Regions from separate parts of the Homo sapiens genome. Here region 1 is linked to region 2. Evidence: fine-mapped expression QTL. Tissue or cell type: whole blood. Region 2 holds a variant in brackets; the other region holds the start of a gene. All regions are shown on one strand. Distances are between the middles of the regions.

Region 1 (8,000 bases), 810 kb before region 2:
TTCTGGGGAAGAGCTGGCCATGCCCACCTTGTCTGACTGTGGGTCGTAAAAGACCCTCCCTCCGGGGGTTCTACCCCATCCCTGGGGGGAGAAGCACTGCACAGAGAGGCCAAGGGGGATCTGCACAGCTGGCCTCGCCAGCCTCGCAGTCCATCCCCACAGGCATCCCCTGCCGTCCGACACCTGTCCACACGGCTGCCTGTTCTCCACCAACTCTAAGCACAGGGACCATCTTCCCTGGGTCTCTGAGTCTCCACTTCTGACACCTCCCTGTCACATAAAGCTTTGATTAAATAAATCTGGTGTGCTTTTCTCTTGTGAACCTGTCTTTTGTTATAGAACTGTCACCCATGGCCCTGATGATGATGAGACCATCCCTATAAACTTTATAAAATTAATCAAGGAAGAAGAGAGGAGGAGAAATGAGAATAAACCAGGCTTGTAGCACATTCAGCATCCATCGCTAGGTCAACTTGCTCTCTGACCTCAAAGTTTTTTGGTGCCTGTTGCCTTAGAATCACAGAGACTCTGTTACAAGATTGTAGCTCTCCCTCACTGCCCTGTAGATATAGATAACAACTTTAACATTGCAAAGATGTCCTTTTCCTTTTTTTTTTTTGAGACAGAGTTTTGCTCTGATTGCCCAGGCTGAAGTGCAACCGCACGATCTCGGCTCACTGCAACCTCCACTCCTAGATTCATGTGATTCTCTCGCCTCAGCCTCCCAAGCAGCTGGGATTACAGGCTCACGCCACCATGCCTGGCTAATTCTTTGTATTTTTAGTAGAGGCAGGGTTTCACCATGTTGGCCAGGCGCCCAGTCAAAAGTTTCCATTTGAGATGTTCTTTTGGGTCCTGTGTACCAATGAAACTACTGACACCGGCCGGGCGCGGTGGCTCACGCCTGTAATCCCAGCACTTTGGGAGGCTGAGGCATGCAGATCACGAGGTCAGAAGTTCGAGACCAGCCTGGCCAACATAGTGAAAACCCATCTCTACTAAAAATACAAAAATCAGCCAGGTGTGGTGACATGCATCTGTACTCCCAGCTACTCTGGAGGCTGAGGTGGGAGAATCGCTTGAACCCAGAAGGTGAAGGTTGCAGTGAGTGGAGACCATACCACTGCACTCCAGCCTGGGTGACAGAGTGAGACTCTGTCTCAAAAAAAAAAAAAGAAAGAAACTACTGATGACAGCTGGTCTCAAGGACCCCAGGAGGACCTGATTCACCAAAGAATACATTTTCCACCTCCTGATGATTTTACCTCCCATCCCCAGACCTATCAACAACCCACTTCTAAAGCCCATCGCCCTCCATGATCCCCTTAAAAGCCCCAGCCCAAAGCTCCTAGGGGAGATGGATTTGAGGATCTCCTCCCATCTCCTTGCTCAGAGCCCTGCAATCATTAAACTCTTCCCTGCTGCGAACCCTGCTGCACGGTGTACTGGTGTGTCGTGGTGTCACGGTGGAGCAGGCATGTGGATCTGCTGGTCTTGTAACAATGGGTGAGGAAACGGATTCCACCTTTTCTACCCTTACAGTTTGAAACAGCTTTGATGCCCATGACAGAAGATTCATTACAAATTCAAGCTCATCCACCCAGCCTTTAACATTAAAAGGCTGTGAAACAGGGCCGGGTGCAGTGGCTCATGCCTGTAATCCCAGCACTTTGGGAGGCCGAGGCGGGCGGATCACGAGGTCAGGAGATGGAGACCACCCTGGCTAACACGGTGAAACCCCGTCTCTACTAAAAATACAAAAAATTAGCTGGGCGTGGTGGCAGGCGCCTGTAGTCCCAGCTACTCAGGAGGCTGAGGCAGGAGAATGGCGTGAACCCAGGAGGTGGAGCTTGCAGTAAGCTGAGATGGCACCACTGCACTCCAGCCTGGGGGAAAGGGCGAGACTCATCTCAAAAAAAAAAAAAAAAGGCTGTTAAGCAGGGTTCTGTGCAAGAAGGCTCACACCGGCTCATTCTTTTAGCCAAAAACTGTGCTACATCCGTAAAACACTACACTACGCGGCTGCAAATAAGAACAAACCACTGAACATCAGCAAACCACTGATAAATTTCATAAACATGCTGAAAAAAGAAGGCAGACAAAAAAACAGTGCTTCACATAGGTTCTCTTTATAAGACCACTGTAATCTATCGTCACAGGAAGCAGATTAATAGTTTACTGGGGAGGCCGGGCGCGGTGGCTCATGCCTGTAATCCCAGCCCTTTGGGAGGCCGAGGCCGGCAGATCACGAGGTCAGGAGATCAAGACCATCCTGGCTAACATGGTGAAACCCCATCTCTACTAAAAATACAAAAAAATATTAGCCGGGCATGGTGGCGGGCACCTGTGGTCCCAGCTACTCAGGAGGCTGAGGCAGGAGAATGGCATGAACCTGGGAGGCGGAGCTTGCAGTGAGCCGAGATCGCACCACTGCACTCCAGCCTGGGGGACAGAGTGAAACTCCCTCTCAAAAAAAAAAATAGTTTACTGGGGAGCAGGGAAAGGAGGTTGACCTCAGAAAGGCACAAAGAAACCTTCTAGAAGGGTGGAAATGGGCTGGGCGTGATGACTCACGCCTGTAATCCCAGCACTTTGGGAGGCCAAGGCGGGAGGATCACCTGATGTTGGGAGTTTGAGACCAGCCTGGCCAACATGGTGAAACCCCATCTCTACCAAAAATGCAAAAACTACCCAGGTGTGGTGGCGGGCGCCTGTAATCCCAGCTACTCGGGAGGCTGAGGCAGGAGAATCGCTTGAACCCAGTGGTCGGAGGTTGCAGTGAGCCGAGATCGCACTACTGCACTCCAGCCTGGGCAACAGAGAGAGACTCTGTCTCAAAAAAAGATAAAAGAAAGAAAGAAAAGGTGGAAATGTTTTATATCTTGATTGGGGGTGTTTGGGGTTATACAATTGTCAAAACTCATCAACCTATATTTAAAATGGATTCATTTTACTGTATATAAATTATAGCTTAACAAAGTTGATTTTTCTTGTATTTTATTTTTTCAAGAAGGCTCTCCCTCTGTCACCCAGGCTGGAGTGCTGTGGTGTGATCACAGCTCACCGCAGCCTCAAACTCCTGGGCTCAAGCAATCTTCCCACCTCTGCCTTCCGAGTAGCTGGGGCCACAGGCACTTGCCATCACACCTGGACAACTTTTTTAGCTTTTTGTAGAGACAGGGTCACTTTGTTGCCCAGGCTGGTGTCAGACTCCTGGCATCAAGCAATTCTCCTACCTTGGCCTCCTAAATGCTGGGATTACAGGCACACACCACTGCACCTGGCCTAAAGTTGATTTTAAAAGAAAAAAAATACATTTTAAAAAAAGAGAAGGCCGGGTGCGGTGACTCACGCCTGTAATCCCAGCACTTTGTGAGGCTGAAGCGGAAGGATCACAAGGTCAGGAGTTCAAGACCAAGCTGGCCAACATGGTGAAACCCCGTCTCCACTAAAAATACAAAAATTAGCCGGGCGTGGTGGCACATGCCTGTAATCCCAGCTACTTGGGAGGCTGAGGCAGGAGAATCGCTTGAACTCGGGAGGTGGAAGTTGCAGTAAGCTGAGATCGTGCCACTGCACTCCAGCCTGGCCAACAGAGCGAGACTCCGTCTCAAAAAAAAAAAAAAAAATACACATATAGATATGTAAAAATACATACACATATATATGTATATACGTATATATATGGCCACGAGGACTGTGCAGCCTGATCACCATACCAGGGTGTGCCTGAGTCCAAAGCCTATGATCTTGATGGCAAGAAAACGGTGACGTAAAGGGGCTGCACAGTTTAATGGGGGCCCCAATAGCAAATATGCAAAATAGGCACATGAGGAAAAGACTGGAAGAGGCTAAAACGCCATCAAGGTCAGGCTGACGGGAGATGGATGTGATTTTATTGTTCTATTATGGTTGTATTTCAATCATAATAAAAGGGAATTCTAACTTTTAAAAATGCTTTACCATGTTAATAGCTAAAATGGGAAATGACCCAAATACTCAGCAACAAAGGCTCCGTTTAAAAGCGTGTGTGGCACGTCCATCCAACAGAGCAGGGCGTGATTCCGTCCTCTTCCCGAAAAGGCCCAAAGGGAGAGGTGGAACTGCTGTGGGATTTTTTGAGGACGGTCTTCCCGGGAATTTTCCATTTCTGCTTTTCTTATTTTTCAATGTTATCTTACTACCTGGGTTACGTGTCACGAGCTCAGGTTATTTCTACCACCAGAGCCTGGGGTGGAGGATACAGACCTCGCCCACTGGAGCTGCCCACAGCGCCTCGCCGGCCCCTCCTGCCTCCTTCGTCCCGCACATCCGCTGCTGCCCTGACACACCCCGATTCCCTGGTGCCAGGGAGAGCCAGGGCAGAGGTGGCCCTGAGACGCCACGCGACGGGGAGGGCTAGAGCGTAAGGAGGAGCGAGGTGCGCATTCGCTGTGACCCTGGCGCTCGGCTTCGCCTCTCTGGGCCTCGGTTTCCACCCCGCGGGAGCGAGTACGACAGGGGCTGCGCGCATTGCCGCAGTCACGCCTGCAAGAGCCGGGCCGGGTGAGCCGCTTCCGGCGCTCCGCGGGGGCCCCGGACGATCCAGCAGGGGCTCCGCCCTGGGACCCCCATCCTGTCTTGGGGCGTGACCTTCGGGGGCGCACGCGGTGCCGGCCGCGCCCGGGGAAGCCGGGTCCGCATCCGAGCATCAGGACAGCCTGCGGCCGCCCCATTGGCCGGCGTGTCTCTGCAGGGCCGTCCCACAGCCAATAGCGGCCAAGGGGCGGAGCCTGGCCGGTGCCCTCGGAGCTGCTGGCCCCGGGCGGCTGCTCCAGTCTGAGCGCCCTCCGCTCGCCCCGAGAGAGACCCGGCCATGCAGGAGCCGCTGCTGGGAGCCGAGGGCCCGGACTACGACACCTTCCCCGAGAAGCCGCCCCCGTCGCCAGGGGACAGGGCGCGGGTCGGGTGAGAGTCGCTAGGTTGGGGGCTGCGGGTGGGGCCTGGGGGTGGCCCTGGTTCCCTCCAGCCGGCGGCAGGCTCCCGCCCTGGGCCTCCCCTGACCTAGTCGCCACCGAGGGGCCATCTGGCTCCCTCCTGTCCCAGACACGCTACTCCTATTTAAGGAACTGGTCCCCCTAAGGGAAGGAACGATCCACGAGAGTACCGGGCCCAGCCCCCCACTGCCACAGACAGTGAGACTGAGGCCCCAGCGAGCAGGGGTTCTGCCTGAGGTCACACAGCAAGCCTCCAGCCGCCGCCCTGGGGGCAGAACCAGAGCCTCCTCTTCCGGAGAAAAGGCCCCAGCACCAGAGGCTCAGCCACTGCGGATGAGCTAACAATGGCCTGGGAATTTCCCAGGGGAGCTGGGGCTCAGGCCCTGGGAACGTGAATGGCCTTGGACCCAGGCCTCCCTAGCACTGCCCGCTGAGCCGGGCAGCCACTGGGTTCAGAAAAGGCAATGGTCCCTGGAGGAGGGACTCAGAGACCCTGGTCTTTTTGTCCGCCACCATCACCAGGACCCTGCAGAACAAAAGGGTGTTCCTGGCCACCTTCGCCGCAGTGCTCGGCAATTTCAGCTTTGGGTATGCCCTGGTCTACACATCCCCTGTCATCCCAGCCCTGGAGCGCTCCTTGGATCCTGACCTGCATCTGACCAAATCCCAGGCATCCTGGTTTGGGGTAAGGACCATCCTCTGGAGGAGGGTGGGTGCAGGAAGGAGGGACCTGCTGAGCCTTATCTCCAGCTAGGAACCTCCCAAATTCTCCACCTTGGGGGTCCCTCCAGGGCCCTGGTCCCCCCTCCCCCAGCCATCCAGGCCACTAGTGGGTGGGGTAAAGCTACAGGATTCCTCTGAAATGAGGAACTGAAAGCCAGTGGAGAGGGTGAGGGAAGGAGCAGGTGGGGAGGTGGCTGTCAGGGTCTATACTAGGTGGGGCTGAGGCTTCCCCGGGTCCCCACACCCACAGTTGGCTGGATGGGGGCAAGGGTATCAGGTGTCAGTGGGGAGAGGCACTGGCTGGGGCAAGGAGAGTCCGCAGGACAGATTGTGGGCTGATGGAGAGGAAGATCCCAGAGTCCCAGAGTCTAAAATTATAATCTTAATAGCCTCATATGTAGAGTTGTTAACATAGTAGTTAAGATAAAAATTCCCAAGGTTTACTGAGCACTTCCTATGTGCCAGGCATGTGTTGGGCACTGAACGTTCATTGATTCTCAGGGCCAACGCCACGAGGTAGAACTTGCGCTCTCCCCATAAGACAGCTGAAGAAACTGAGGTGCAGACAGGCTGGGCAATGTGCCCAGGTCCCACTACCAGTTAGCAGAGTCCAGAGGGGGTCCCAGTTGCTGCTGTACAGGGAACTTAAGAACCTCCAAATCTTAAAGCCCAGTACCTTCAAGTCACAGAATTCTCCTGTATTAAAATATTAGACATTTAAACATCAGGCTGGACAGAACCACTGTGGATATGTGGCGCAGCACCTCTTCCTTAGAGCAGAATTCCCCGTTTGGGCATCCCTAACAAATGGCTGTTCCTTGAAGACAGGAGGCTCCCTGTTTCAAGTGCTTGACTTGGCCAAGTGCTTGACCAGCTCCTGGGGTCGGCCTAGGGAAGAAGCTGTCCCTGGACTCTGATGAGATTGGGGTGCCAAGTGCCCAGACATATCTGCCCTGCACCCCCTTCCCCTGCAGTCCGTGTTCACCCTGGGAGCAGCGGCCGGAGGCCTGAGTGCCATGATCCTCAACGACCTCCTGGGCCGGAAGCTGAGCATCATGTTCTCAGCTGTGCCGTCGGCGGCCGGCTATGCGCTCATGGCGGGTGCGCACGGCCTCTGGATGCTGCTGCTCGGAAGGACGCTGACGGGCTTCGCCGGGGGGCTCACAGCTGCCTGCATCCCGGTAAGGCCAGGCCTTCCCACCCAGGCGCCCCAATGCCTCTGTATTGGTGCTGAGCCTCCATCTGACTAAGGCCTCCCAGCCTCCATGCCTTCTGGGCAATGAGAATTGTTTGCCTTCCCTGCGGATGCCCAGGGCGCCTCAGCTCACCCCCAGCAGGGCAGCTAATTTGGGGGAAATTGTCTCCAGGTCCCCAGCTGCCCCCACTCTGGACTTTCCAAGCCTTCTACCCCGTTTCTTGACCGGTCAGATGTATTACTCAATTGGAGAAAATCCGCATTGAGCAATGGGTAGGAGAGGGAAGTCCCTGCCCTACACCCTCCCCGGGACCTTCTTATCTTATGTGGTACTCCACACGGGGCCTGGTGGTGAGCCCAGCAGAGGAGACAAAACTCACTGGGAGGCATGGACTCACCTGCTCAGCCCTGAAGCCTGGGAGCCCTCGGGCCTCCTTCCCAGCGTCATGCTGCCCATTTCCGAGCTGCGTACTTCCACCCACGTCACAGTTAGGGAAACTGAGGACAGAGAGAGATCAGGCAGGCCGCCCAAGGTCTTGCAGTGAGTCATGACCAGGACTCAGCCCCACCAGAAAGCCTCCACTTCCCACTTTCCGGGGTTCACAGGGGCTGACTCTCCCATCTCGGCCGGGCCTAGGAACCAGTATTTTCAGCAAAACCTGGTGCGGCGGCTGTGTCTTGCAGGTGTACGTGTCTGAGATTGCTCCCCCAGGCGTTCGTGGGGCTCTGGGGGCCACACCCCAGCTCATGGCAGTGTTCGGATCCCTGTCCCTCTACGCCCTTGGCAAGTATGGCCCCGCACTCCTGTGTGCAGGCTGGTGGGAGGGGTGGGTGCCGCCAAGGTAGACGTGGGTGGAAAGGGAATGATTTGTCCCAGAACAGATCCTGGGCTGAGAGGCAAGAGATCTGGCATCCCGGCCCCACTCAGTCAGCACCTTGCTGGGCACCTCCAGGCAGGGCCTGCCCCTCTAGCCACAGGCCCAGTCTCTAGCTGGGGCAGCCAGGGCTTCTCCTGGACCCACAGTCGCCAGACTATCTTTTAACGGCAGAAAGCTTCCATCAAATGCCATCTCAGATGGGAAGTCCAGATAGAAAAGAAATCACAG
Region 2 (8,210 bases):
AAATAAGAGATATAAAAACTATCAGATGAGCATTTACTCAAGGAGATGGCAATTTTTTAAAATAAGTCAGAATGTCATTATTCATAGCCTGGTTCCCATATTCTTCTTAGAATTAATATATGCAAGAGAGATGTACTTGATTCTTAAGATTCAACAGAGCATTTACCTGAACTAGTCACAAAACAAAAAAGGTGTTAACAAATTTATGAAAATATGTATCTATATATATCTTTGATACAAATTGATATTTAGATTTTTACAACATCTTTGCAATACAAATGCCAGCTTTAGGTCCTTTATCTGAAATTTCATTGACAAATAATGGCGAGAGCCAACTCCAACTGCTTTGTTTACTGTTTCTATAGAATAATGTTCACTCTAATCAGACTATTCTAGTTGCCATTCCTGAACATTCCCACCTCAGCTTTCCCCGGCTCCCTTGCCTAGTTCTTCTCCCTATGTAAATCCCATCTATCCTACCAGATCTAATTCTCCCTATAAGGCCTTTTGAGGTCATTCAAGCTTTCATTCATCTCTCCCTCCTCCAAGTTCGTAACATGTATGGGACAGTAAGACAGAGTCTCATTCTGTCGCCCGGGCTGGAGTGCAGTGGCACAATCTCGGCTCACCGCAAACCCCACCTCCAGGGTTCAAGTGATTATCCTGCCTTAGCCTCCCAAGTGGCTGGGATTACAAGCGTGCACCACCACACCCAGCTAATTTTTGTATTTTTAGTAGAGACAGGGTTTCACCATGTTGGTCAGGCTGGTCTTGAACTCCTGACCTCAAGTGATCCACCTGCCTCGGCCTCCCAAAGTGCTGGGATTACAGGTGTGAGCCACCGTGCCCAGCTGTGAGCTCTTTAATAAGATTTTAAAGGGACATCAAAGATGGAGGAAGAGATAAATGACCAAAAGAAAGTGGTTCAGAACCATAAAAAAATAGGAAAGCTAAAGCCAAAAAGAGCAGAGACTAGCCAAAAGATGTTTTGTTATGTTGAAAGCAGGAAGAAGGAAGGACTTTATCCACTGTCTTTAGAGAAATGGGTAAAAGAAAAAGAATGCTTCAATTATTTTTTAGTGTCAATTTCCTTTTTCAAAGAGGCTGCTCTTTAAACTGGAAAGGGTAGAACATGATTAAAAGGAAATTCCAGCCTAAGACACACATGGATATAATAAAAGTCACTTGAATGAGTTTAAATGTTCAAGCCTAGAGGAATTACCCTCCAGGACACAGAAAGCACTTGGAAGACATTAACTCAGAACCACTTACTACATCCTAGATGAAGTCTGGACAACTGGGGATGTATCAGAAAATCAGAGTGCAACAAAGAGTTAAAAAATATCCCCCATGGCTGGGCATGGTGGCTCACACCTGTACTCCCAGCACTTTGGGAGGCCGAGGTAGGTGGATCACTGGAGACCAGGAGTTTGAGACCAGCCTGGGCAACATAGTGAGGCCCCATCTCTACTAAAAATAGCAAAAAATTAGCCAGGCGTGGTGGTGGGCACCCATAACCCCAGCTACTTGGGAGGCTGAGGCAGGAGAACTGCTTGAATCTGGGAGGCAGAGGTTGAAGTGAGCCGAGATTGCGCCACTGCACTCCAGCCTGGGTGATGGAGCCAGGCTTTGCAAAAAAAAAAAAAAAAATCCCCCAAATGGTACATAAATAACAAAAACTACAGACCATTAAGCCTAACAGAAAATTCCTCAATGTATTAACAAATGAATAGTTTGTGCAGACAGGAGTGATGATTAGAAACAAGCAAAGGATGGCTGGGCGTGGTGGCTCACGCCTGTAATCCCAGCACTTTGGGAGGCTGAGGTGGGCGGATCATGAGGTCAGGAGATCGAGACCATCCTGGCTAACACGGTGAAACTCCGTCTCTACTAAAAATACAAAAAAATTAGCCGGGCATGGTGGTGGGTGCCTGTAGTCCCAGCGACTCAGGAGGCTGAGGAAGGAGAATGGCATGAACCCGGGAGGTGGAGCCTGCAGTGAGCCAAGATGGCACCACTGCACTCCAGCCTGGGCAACAGAGCAAAACTCCATCTCAAAAAAAAAAAAAAAAAAAAAGGGTAACTGGAATAGTCTATTCTTATTCTCTTTTCTGCTAAAATTGCTAGATGACATAATAGATAAGCAAATAAAATGAAATGTAAATAGAAAATTGTCCACAAAATAGAGAACTAACTTTTCCTACAGTGTGTTTCACAGTACACTACTCCCTTTAATTGTCCCTTGAAAAATAGTTCTATGGCCAAACAAGCTTTGGAAATACTATATTTATATGTCGTTCTCCCTTGAAAAGTGACACGAGGACACTAAATGCCTCGGCCAGGGAACTACTATAAAGACCTACTGAGCCACAGGAAGCCAAACTTTTTTGCCTTTTTAAACAACAGAGCCTTTTTTTTGGAGGTGAGGGAGGCAGTTATTACCCTTTATTATCCAAAAGTATGTGGAATACTTTGGGAATGGTGTTTTAGGCAGTGTATCTTGATTTTAGGAAGGCATTTTAAAGTAGTCTCTTGGATACACTATGAAACTTGCTGGAGAATCATAGACTGAAAATGCCAATTAAATGAGGTGTAGGTGGCTGGCTTGGAAATAAAACAATGCTAATCAAAGCCCGGTGCTTTCTACAGGCAGATGAAATTTGTGAGATGACATAATGAAGCACAACATAATAACTGAAAATCTGTGCTATGACGCCAGACTACCTGGGTTCAAATGCTGGCTCTGCTACATACCAGCTCTGTGTGCGCAAATTGCTTAAACCTTCTGACCTTAATTTCCTCATTTATAAATGAGACTAATACATGTCCCAGAAAGTTAGGAAGGTTAAATAAGTCAATATATCAAAGCATATATTAAGCGCTCAATAAAGTTACCTATGATAATTGTTAATATACTCTGAGGACTAAGTTAAAAAAAAAACTTTTGAGATTCCTCTCTGTCACCCTGGCTGCAGTGCAGCTGGCGTGACTACAGCTCACTGCCGCCTCAACCTCCCGGGGTCAAGTGATCCTTTCACCTCAGCCTCCTGAGTAGCTAGGACCACAGGTGCACACCACCATGCCTGGCTAATTTTTAAAATTTTTTGTAGAGATGCGGTCTCTCTCTGTTGCCCAGGCTGGTCTTTAACTCCTGGGCTCAAGCGATCCTCCGGCCTTGGCCTTCCAAAGTGTTGGGATTACAGGTGTGAGCCACAGCACTCAGCCTTAAGTAAATGTTAATAAGATATTTAATGCTAATAAAAGTATGCAAAAATGCAAGGTAGACATAAAGTTGTGTACCAAATGAAAGGTAGATATAAAATTGTTCATCAAATCCTTTAATACTGTGAACTAAGCAATACTCCTTAGAATAGGTTAAATTTGCTACAAATAAAAGCTACTGTAGAAGTAAACTCACAGGATTGGTAACCCAAAGCAGCAGCACGGGATGAAATAAAGGAAGCTTAAGCAACCCTTGGTCCTACTCATTGTGGGAAGAATTCTTGACAGGATGGAGAGCAGTACAGATCTTGACTGGTAGGAAAAAGTCTTAGGGTTTTGTGTAGCAATTTCTGACATATGTTTCAACTAGACTACTGAACCTCCCTCCAACTCTCCCTATCACAAAACTGTTAACAAATCAAGTATTCAGATGCCCAAGGAGTATACTTAAAAAGTCCAGCTCCCAGAGGCCTGCCCGCAGCCAATCATTTAATTGTACACCATCCAGTTTCCAGTTGACCACTATTAGGTTGGTGCAAAAGTAATTGCGGTTTTCACCATCACTTTTAATGGCAAATACTTTTAATACTAACTGTTAGGCATTTTGTAAGCACCTGACAAAAATTCACTTGAAGCTTTTAGACAGTAAGCTTCTTGAGGACAGGTAATAGAGTCCAAAGACAGGCAACAGTTATTTAACTTAATGTAGCAGATGAAGTTAATACTTTCTAAGGCTCCTAACAATTGATGCACAATACAATTCGGTACACAAATATTATCAGAATTTGGAACTATACACAAATGTCTCACTAGATGAGTCACTAAATCAGTAGTCCAATGGGAAAAACAATTCTGACATTCTTAAATCACTATTTCATTGCTTTTCAGATTTATACTGTCCACCTTTATATCATACAATCTTATAAAACAGCTGATAATTAATGTCTGAACTATTACATAACTGCAGATTTTCCTGCAAATTCATAATCTAAATAACAGAATTATAGAGCAAAAGCTTCAAAGGTGTTTAGTACCTAGCTTTCTAACAGTGCTACACTAAAACTGTCATCTGCGCTGCAGACTGTCCACCATTTAGGTTAGCGCGAAGGCATGCTGCACGGCACCGAGCAGATTTAAATCCACAGACTGCCAATGGGTGGAGTCATCAAAGTGCTGACACAGACTTCTTTACATTCCTACCGTCACACCAGTTTTAACCCACAGAGGGCTCTTGTAG[A/GGTCA]ACTGCAGGGTCAACTCAGCATTCATTCACTTCAATCAGTCTAAAAAGACTGCTAAATGACTGATGGTTTATGTGATGTGCATATTAAAAAAAAAACAACAGTACAGAAGGGGAAGATGTTACTAATTAATTTCATAGAAGCCATTTGTCAACTATAAGAGAGCTATATAAGGATTTCCTGTTACTAGTTAGCAGTTGTGGTAAATGTTAACTGAGGCAAAATGACAGTCAAAATTTTATCAGAATACTCATGTCCACAACCACGACATTAATCCAGACTCCTACTCCTTCATACCTGTATAACTGCATTATATTTTCTTTCTTTTTTTTTGAGACGGAGTCTGGCTCTGTCGCCCAGGCTGGAGTACAGTGGCGCAATCTTGGCTCATAGCAAGCTCCGCCTCCCGGATTCACGCCATTCTCCTGCCTCAGCCTCCCAGTAGCTAGGACTACAGGCGCCCGCCACCACGCCCGGCTAATTTTTTGTATTTTTAGTAGAAACGGGGTTTCACTGTGTTAGCCAGGATGGTCTCGATCTCCTGACCTCGTGATCCGCTCGCCTCGGCCTCCCAAAGTGCTGGGATTACAGGCGTGAGCCACCGCGCCCGGCCCAACTCATTATATTTTCACCTTGAGCATTTACAGCGTGCCAAGAACTGGGCCAAGTGATTATGTGTGTTTAATCTTCCAAAAAACCTAAACAACGCTTCATTATCCCCCTTTTATAGATAGGCCTATCTTGTGCCAAAGCCCAGTCTCTTCACTTTTATTTTACACTGATCACAACAATCATCTTCTTGCCTCTATCCAGTAATGTTCCTGAACCACAGCAGGTCACTCTATGCTAATGAAACTGTAACAGCATCTTAAAGACTTCCTAGATTGAAGCCAACTTCCTCATACCGACCTTCCAAGTCCACAAACTGGTCTCATCTTACTTTCTCGGACTCTCTAGAAGACCTACTTGAGCTCATGTACTGATCCGTCATTATACAAACAATAATTAATTATGTTCATGACTTAAACGTGTATGCACATGGGATGAATGCCTCATTCCTGCCGCCTGGAATGCCCTTTCCTTCCTTCCTCTTACAAACCAAACACTACCTTCTTTAGGACTGCTGCAGATTCACCACCAGATGACCTGCCCCATAAGTCTCTCCCCTTACTACTCCCTCCTTTCTTTACATTCTCTCTGCTAAGGTATTCGATGTCTACTATACTGACATACATACTTTCCTTGAGTTGCTGTGCGGATGAACATCCTTGGAAACAGTTAAATTCCTTTACAGCAGAAGATACACCTTTTAAATCACCTTTCTTCTGCCTCCCTCCTTTTGTATTTCTCAATTTCATAGGGTTGCATCTGTCTATCTGATTTGTTTACACTTGAACAAATGTGTTCATATCTTCTTCAAGAAGATCTTAGAGGAAGCTTAGTCATACAAGCTGACTAACAATCTAACAACAGAAAGATGTTTGAAACTTGAATTAAGTATGCTACAAAGTGATGAGGGTTATCTGCACCCTACCTATAGCTAATGACTCATATTTTCAATGGTTTTCCAAAATAAGAGTTTACGAACACATAAACATGTTCTCTATGTGCGGATACACATCTTTACAGTGCTTATCACTACCTGACAGGACCTTATCATTTGTGCTTGACTTGCCAAAGAATGTAAGCTTCATGAGGGCAGGGGTTCTGTTTTGTACACTGCTTTATTTCCAGAACATGGGGCAGCACCAAGCAGAATGGTATTCAAATATCTATTGAATGTATGAATATACACTGACAGTTCACATGTAAGCGTACACCTCTATCAAGGATATATGGAAAGTTTTTACACCTCTAAGCAACTAAAAGGAACGCTATGGCTTACTACTTGACCTTGCGCTTGAAGTTTAAGATAGGTAGTTGTTTCGAATCTTTATTTTCATTCAACATCCCAAAGATGTTTAGCTAGTAAAGAAAAACTAAAGTACAAACCCCGAGATCCAGTATTTACCCGTTTGCCCAAGGAGAGGCGAGGACCATTCATAATAAAGTCACTGAAACAATTAAGACAATGGATGGGACCAGTTTTTCTTTTCTGAAGCTAAAGAGGCGCGAGAGGAGGACACACACAGTAGACAAAGCCAGCCAAGAACCTCGGAAAGTCGGCCCCAAACAATAGCAGCAACGACAGAGGCAGGCCCCGGGTTGGATCTACAGGGGGTGGAGTCTCAGAAAGCACCATCGAGTAACCCGCTCCATGTGCGGGCCCGACGGAGGGGCGAAGGAGGGGTTCCTGGGACTCAACTCCGGGAAGCCCCCTGGGTGTGTACCTGTGTTTGCGGCGGCGGGTGACCTGGGGAAACAGGGTGCAGACAGCTGCAGAGCTTTTCTTTTTTTTTTTTTAAGCTGTGGTAACCCTGGCTGCTTAATAAATCCCCAGCGCTCGGTGCGAAGAGGGAAATCCCCGGACAGAGTGTGGGATCGGATTCCCCTGGGACGGATGATGCGGCCGCGAGAGGGGGACAGGGGAAGACCCCAGGGATGGCGGGGGATGACTTACTTTGAGGAGACAGCTGTTGAGCGGTGCGGGCACCGAGGTGCGGTGGATAACCAGGTCCTGGCCCGGGTTGTGCACGTCGCAGATGAGCTCCAGCACAGCGATGCTGCGGGCCGTGGACACAGACACGCGGTGGTCCTCGGACCAAGCCAGCGGTTCCAGGCCGCTCACCGCATACTGCAGCTTCACGGCCGGCTCCCGCCGAGTCACCATGAGGCGGAATGCAGCGCTGGGCCCCGGGGCCGCGTCCGCTGCTGGCTCCTTCCCGCCCGCCTCGCCGCCCCCCTCTCCCTCCTCCTCCCCAGACGGCGCAGGCCCGTCGTCCGCGGGCCCCACCCGGGCCTGGTCGGCCGTGTTCATCTTCTCTCAGGTGCAGAGGTCGGACGCCCTGGCGCTCCACGCAGTCGCGCGACCACCTCCCGGACCGCCGCCGCCACCCCCAGCGCCCTCCGCGGCGGTTTTCTCCCCTCAGGCCCCGAGCGCCGCCGAGCCAAGAAGGACCCCGCCGTTGCCAGGCAACGCGGCCCTACCAGGTGGCCAAGGAACTGCCTGTCCAGAAAAAGGACAGCGAGCGGGGAGCCCCGAGGACCCCCTTTTCCCTGCCCAGGGATTGAGCTCCAGAGCCTGTTAGGGAGCTACCCAGACAGGCTTTAGTTCCTAAAGTGCTGAGGAAACGCACGGGGCGGTAAAGGGGAGGCTCGTCGGTGAGATGGCGCCGGATCTCGCTTCTCAGAGGCATTCAGAGAGCTTCCCCAGCGTGAACTCTCGGCCGAATGTAATTTTGCCAGGCCGCGAGGGACGCAGAGAGGGGCTGCCACCAGGCGGGGGCACGCGCGGTAGTCTTGTCCCTACCCGCCCGGTGCCGCCGTCCCCGGCTCCCCTCGGGACGAGTCCGTACAGCTGGAGCCGTTCCGGACCCGGAAGGGGCGGTGGCGCAGGGTCCTCGCGCGTCCCACGTGGGGTCCCGGGCCCAGCAGTCTGCGCACCGGGCTCGCTGCTGCACCACGCGTCACCCACGCAGACCATGGCAGCCGCCGACGGTTCGCTCTTCGACAACCCCAGGACGTTCTCCAGACGTCCCCCAGCCCAGGCGAGTCGGGTGAGTTCTGACCCGGCTTCAGCTCCGTCCCCACCCGCGGCCCGGCTGTGGGCGCGCCGCGAGCTGCAGCCGTGCCTTGGAGTCGGGTTTCGAGTCA

Evidence for each region. PIP is the estimated chance that this variant, and not a neighbour inherited with it, causes the effect.
Region 1: SLC2A6 starts here. The variant in region 2 is fine-mapped to the expression of SLC2A6 in whole blood (INTERVAL, PIP above 0.99).

Annotation. Positions count from the first base shown.
Region 1 is chr9:133,475,915-133,483,914 of GRCh38, reverse strand. It overlaps SLC2A6 (solute carrier family 2 member 6), which reads left to right and starts at 4,816. Exons shown (of 10, transcript NM_017585.4): 1 at 4,816-4,947; 2 at 5,499-5,661; 3 at 6,674-6,880; 4 at 7,579-7,678. The coding sequence starts at 4,856. RefSeq lists enhancers at 4,305-4,806, 5,227-5,286 and a silencer at 4,417-5,066.
Region 2 is chr9:132,669,763-132,677,972 of GRCh38, reverse strand. DDX31 (DEAD-box helicase 31) reads left to right here and starts at 7,990. Exons shown (of 20, transcript NM_022779.9): 1 at 7,990-8,113. The coding sequence starts at 8,039. It overlaps GTF3C4 (general transcription factor IIIC subunit 4), which reads right to left and starts at 7,509. Exons shown (of 5, transcript NM_012204.4): 1 at 7,018-7,509. The coding sequence starts at 7,374. RefSeq lists enhancers at 4,357-4,406, 7,501-7,580, 7,266-8,133 and silencers at 7,221-7,350, 7,771-7,920. The variant A/GGTCA (reference allele first, on the strand shown) is at 4,460.